2 separate regions of the Homo sapiens genome follow, and region 2 is linked to region 1. The links come from fine-mapping of genetic effects on gene expression. A gene starts in region 1. The other region holds a variant in brackets. All regions are shown on one strand. Distances are from middle to middle.

Region 1 (2,918 bases):
CGCCCGGCCCTGCCCTCTCCTGCACTGATTCTGCTCAGGTCTTGATAGGAAGAGGGGGGCGTCCACGCCCCGCTCGCTCCATCCCACCCCATCCTTCGGCGGGAGCAGCCAGATCTGGCCAAGAGTGGGAGGCGCTCCCAGATCTGCCTTTCTCTGCAGCTCCTTGCAGCTCCTGCGAAGCTGCTTCCCAAACACCGAGAACCTTTTCCACCCAGGAAATGTGGGTCCAGCCCTTCCCCAAAGTAGAGGCTGGAAACCACCAGCGAGTCTCTACACCGGAATATTAAGGGGGTGAAAGTAAGGACCAGTCAAGAATGGTAGCGCATTCGGCCTCTAGACTCCAGAGAAGGAGAACAATGTCTTGAAACCAGGTGCAGAACCTCCACCTCTCCTGAGCATCGTCTCGGGAAGAACCAATCCATCCACCCCACCCCAATCACTACCACCAAGTAATGGGGCAGCAGGCTGCTAGGACCTAAAGCGCTGGCCTCAGCGGCAGCAGCGCCCACATCTGGACACGGCCCTCTCCCAGTGGGCCTCCCGAAGGCACAGGACCAGATGCACACAATGGGCATCCCCACACCTGCTGGGCGATGGCCCACCTCCCCCAAGCTGCTCTCCCGGGTCCGCTGAGCGGTACCAGGCACCCCCGAGACACGCGCTGGCAACCACGCGCGCAGCGAGAGGTGAACAATGGGGGGTCAAATTCGCCAGGAAACACGTCCCAGCCTTCTCCCCCGGCCAGAAGCGACCGCAGCGGAGGGAGTGGGCATAGGGGTCGCACTGGACGCAGACAGGGAGCTGGGAGAACCGGGCGACCCGGGGCCGCTTCCCGTGGGGCGCGGAAGGGACAGGAGGGATCCCCAGCCAGGGTGGCCGCTCCGCTCCCCCCCGCGGCCTCCGCCGTGTGGGCATCCCGAGGAAGGGGGGCCCCGATGAAGGGGCACCGGAGAGTCCCGGGCTTACGGAACGCCCCGGGGGTGCGAAGTCGGGTCCGGCTGGGACCCCGGCGCCGCCCCCGGCCCGCGTCTACACTAGCCCCGCGCCCGCCCCGGGAACTCGGTTACCGCCGCCTCCGCCGCGGCCCCCGCCGCGTCCTCCGGGGCCCGGGACAAGTCGGGCTCGCAGCTCGCGCCGTCCGTCGCCATCTTCCTGCTCTAGCGGATCCGAATGCGAGCTCGGAGCCGCGGCTCCGGACTCAGCCGTCTCCGCGCGGGCGGCACTTAACCCGCTGCTGTCCGGGACGCGGGCGCCTGGAGCCGGGAGCCGGGAGCCGCGGCACTCCCTCCGCCCCTCGCCACCGCCCTCGCCGCTTAACCCGCTGCGCGCCGGAGCGCCCCGCCTCGGTCCCGCCCCGCGCCCCGCGTCCCGCGCCCGGTGGCGCCAGCCGCGGGCTCGTGGAGGTGCGAGAAATGGGCGCACGACCTGGCTCCGCTGCGGCCCTGCGCGGGGACTGGGGATCAAAGACCACGGAAGAGGTGAAGGCAGAAAGCGCCCGAGGAGCGTTGCATTCCGCAGAACCCCAACCAAGCCGGAGAAATCCGTGCACAGACCAGATTAAATGTCAGGCCTCCTGAATCTGAATTCTCTGAAAGATCAGGGAAAATCCTACACTTCAGCTCCCTCTATCCCACCGCGAGGAATCACACAGGGCACCCCTTTCTTCTTAAATTGCTCTTTCTTAAATTTCATTGCCGCCAGGGTGTTTTTATCCTCCCTATATATATACACACCTGGCTCTGATTTATTCTATCGTTGACTCTAGTGTTTCTCCAAAAACAATTCTCAGATGAAAACGATTTGTCTGTCCTGTTTTCTTTTAGAACGTGGCACCAGCCCCTCAGCTCCTAACTTTCTATACAATCTCCTTTTCAGGGAATGTGTAGCGGGCTGTTTTATATTCTGTGACCCCCCTAAGTCTGAGATCTCTCCTGAAGGACTAACTGAGAAGTGTTAAATGTCATAGCTTTAAAAGCTAAATGTCATGTCCTCTACTTTTGAGAGAATTTAAAAAAATTACTCCCTACGTGTGAGGACACGTGTACATATACACCAAAAACAATCAAACAAAAGCCGTATTTGTAAAAATAGATTTTATGGGAATTACACGTCTCAGAAGATTTTTCATGAGATGAGTGAATTAGGCCCAAACGCTTAATCTTCCCTTTCCACATCTAATTCAGTTCCTACCCTTTGCTGCCAATTTCCAGAATGTGAAAATCTATCACCTCACCAAGACCATATGGTACAGCCCTTCCCAAATCACCAGATCCCTAAAAATGTGTCGAATGCATAAAATCAAATTGAGACATTCAAGCTGTGTCTCAAAGACGTAAAATCAAACCACAACCAAATCTTGCACTTGAAATTTTGGAAGATGAATGACTAGAATGTTCAGTCCAAGGGTTACAGATCAAAGCTTTTTTTTTTTTTTTCCTTTTTTCTTTCTTTCTTTCTTTCTTCTTTTTTTAATGGCAGGCTCCTAATGAAAGGTTTTGACTCTTTAATTGCTCCACTTTCCAAATTAGACCCAAATATGACACAAACCAGGGCAGAGAAAATCTTTTCTGCAAAGACCCTGAAAGGGATTGATTAATAAACTGTGAAAAGTTCCCTCCCAGAAGAGAGGTCAAGAAAGAACTTTACCTAGAACTCTGGGGCTAAAAGTCAGAGGCTTAGAAATCATCTCCAGGTTATCCTGTGAGTACAGGTACTTATTTATTTATTTATTTATTTATTTATATTGGCTCTGATAGTTACTCCCTCACTTATCCCTTTAATATCCATCCCTGTTCATTATACCACTTTCCTTTATTAAGTATACTCTCTAAAACTGCTCAATATTAGAATAACTAGATTTCTTTAAGATTAAAGAAAACCACTGGACAGTAAAAGTTAGATGTCAAACTGATAGTAAA
Region 2 (2,918 bases), 62 kb before region 1:
AGAAACATTTTAATTTATGCTTTAATAATAATGGTGGAGAGAACATATTAGTTTTAATTTTAATCAAACCACACAGCATGAGCTTCTAGCTTTCTCACTCTCTTTTCTAATAAAAGGCATCGATAGTCTTGGCAGCATATTAGAAGGGCAAAATTTAAATTTCTATTTACTTATTTCCTTATTATCACCACAAGTTTTCATTGAACTTTGTACTCTTTGAAGCAGATACTCAAGTGAAAGGAATATGTGTGTGATGGTGGGGGAGGGGGAGAGGAGGAGGAGGTTGGTTTAAATGAAACACATGTGAGCAGGAGGCTTGAGGTCTGCAGCTGACACAGCTATCACACCCCAGAGGTGAGTCTGACACTAACCAGGACTTTAAGATGACACATTGTGAGACTGGACATACCACGCAAACATGCATTCCATTTTCTTCATGTTATTTTCATTTCCCCCCGCCAAAATTAAGAAATAATAAAATAATTTCTAATTGCAAATAACTATTTTAGACAGAAGCTAGATACAGTAAGTTGGGATGTTACTATATGATCAAAGAGTCCTGGTTGCATCACTGGATTAACCTACCTAGCAGCTAAGCATGTTTTCTAGAAGGCACTAGGAAGTCCAAAAACATATATATAGAGAGAGATTTTAAAGAAAGTATCAAAGTAACCATTATCAGAAACATAATTTTTCTGTTATACTTCCTTTATGGTTTAGTGTTATTTTGAGTTACACTTTAAACACTAGGTTACATTGGCTTAAAGAATCTGTCAGCCTCTTGCACTTCTAAGTACTTATTGCAATCCTGTCTGAAAATATAATACTGAAGAACAAACAACTTTGGAGGTGATCTCCTCATTGGACACCATGTTGTGGGGAAAATGACCATTTGAACGCCTCAATACCTTCTTTTGTCTGCTCTCAGCAGCAGCCAGCTGTGCGGACATCCTTTCTTGCATTTTCTTGCAGTGGGCCATGACTGCTTCAAGGATGGAGAGGGGGTTGGTACAAACTGGCTTCTTCTCTTTGTCACCAGCACCTGCTTCATAGTCTCTCTGGAGTGCCAGGAACGGGTCATTTAGATTAAATCTCCCATACCGTTCCTGGATAAATACCTCCTTCCTGCGAGCCTGGAACAAAATTAGAGAAATGTATTGAAGAAAGAAATGAAAATATACAGAAAGATATTTATAAGAAGGTTTTGTGATTA[T/C]ACTTCCAAATGGTATTCTCAACTGCTGTGAGTAATGGCTTATGATGTCAGTGGTGAGTGAGAGGCAAATGTGACCCCCAGTCTCCACTAGCCTGGAATGCCATTCCATCTGCTTTCAAATTTTCTTCAAGAATATTGAATTTTACATTACAAATGATGCAAATATAGTTATTTCCTATGGTGCCCTACTCCTCAAGGATCAGAATTTAAGCAGCAGTCTTTTTTTACACCCCCACCCCTCCACCCCGCCCAACAGGGTCTTGCTCTGTCATCCAGGCTGGAATGCAGTGGCACAATCACAGCTCACTGCAGTCTCAACCTCCTGGGCTCAAACAATCCTCCTGCCTCAGCCTGTCTTATAGCTGGAACTATAGGTGCATGCCACCACACCCAGCTAATTTTTTTGATTTTTTAATTAAGATGGGATCTCACTTTGTTGTCCAGGCTGGTCTCAAACTCCTGGGCTCAAGTAATCCCCCAGCCTTGGCCTCCCAAAGTGCTGGGAGCCACCATGCCCCACCTAGTCTTTTCTAATTTAATGTAAAATCAGAAATATTGACAATTAAAATAATTTTTAGCTAAAGTTCAAAAATAAAATTATCTCTATATCGATAGAACTTACATTTAAAATAATATCAGGTTAAATCACGCATACAAAAAATCCCCTATAGGTTTTTTATAGCCAGAAGGAAATCACATGGATGTCTGGTAAGAAGAAAATTCTTTGTGAAATTTTTAATGTAAAAATTTTAATTAAATTAAAATTTTAATTAAATTAAAATTTTAATGTAAAAATTTTAATTAAATTAAAATTTTAATGTAAAAATTTTAATTAAATTAAAATTTTAATGTAAAAATTTTAATTAAAAAAATTAAAATTTTTAATGTAAAAATAAATAACAATATTCGTAGTTTGTAAAATTTGACCAACTACAACAGCCTTCAAAAAACTTTAAAAGGCATCTATCTCTTTCTCACTGAAGGGCATTAAAATATAGTTCACAGAATCCCAGGAAAGTATGCAACTTAATTATACTCTAAATGTCAGTCCATCAGCGACAAAGTTAATTTCACACCCACGCAATGAGGACCAAATGCAATTTTCTATAATTAGCCTACAAAGTCATTGCATAAAAATGGAAAATAGCAGTAGAAATGTATTAAAAGCTAGCAACATTTTCCTAATTCAGGTCATTTTGGAATAGCCACTAGAATGAAAAAAAATCTATGTCACTGCCAGTAAAAAAATTAAGTTATAATAAATCAAGCTTATTTGTCCAAAACATTAAACATGTCTTCTGAAGAAATATTATTAATGCATACAGTTCCATACTTTAAAGGGAACTGAATTGGAAAACTACACTTTTCCATTTTAGGCCACTATCAGCAAGCCAACAACTAGATAAACACAAATCTAATGACAAATGGGAAAAATCTAACATTTCTTTCCTTATCATCAACTTAGATTAATAAATAAAATTTACAAAAAGTCCAGTTTCACAATTAAATTTAAGCTAGCTTTCAGAAGACCACTTTAAACTTAAAAGGTAAGGTTTATGAGCTAAAAGCACTCGGTGTTTCTAGATTCTTTAAATTCAATCATGTAATCAATACACTGAATAAGTATCACTTGAGAGATGCAATTTCAAAAGCAATTTCATTTTGCCCTTCACATTTTTCTTAATATTTATTCAGTGTAGCAGTT

Alleles and levels. Positions count from the first base shown, and alleles are read on the strand shown. Sizes are in standard deviations (SD) of each study's normalised expression.
As copies of T replace C in region 2, the expression in fibroblasts of the gene that starts at base 1,174 in region 1 goes down (small effect, 0.38 SD a copy in GTEx).

The links.
Region 2: its variant is fine-mapped to the expression of CTTNBP2 in fibroblasts (GTEx, PIP above 0.99).

What each region holds. Positions count from the first base shown.
Region 1 is chr7:117,872,268-117,875,185 of GRCh38, forward strand. It overlaps CTTNBP2 (cortactin binding protein 2), which reads right to left and starts at 1,174. Exons shown (of 23, transcript NM_033427.3): 1 at 1,068-1,174. The coding sequence starts at 1,148.
Region 2 is chr7:117,809,857-117,812,774 of GRCh38, forward strand. CTTNBP2 (cortactin binding protein 2) reads right to left here. Exons shown (of 23, transcript NM_033427.3): 3 at 909-1,133. Among named protein-coding and RNA genes, the nearest start is that of CTTNBP2, 62 kb to the right of the region's middle. RefSeq lists enhancers at 58-806, 807-1,553. The variant T/C (reference allele first, on the strand shown) is at 1,214.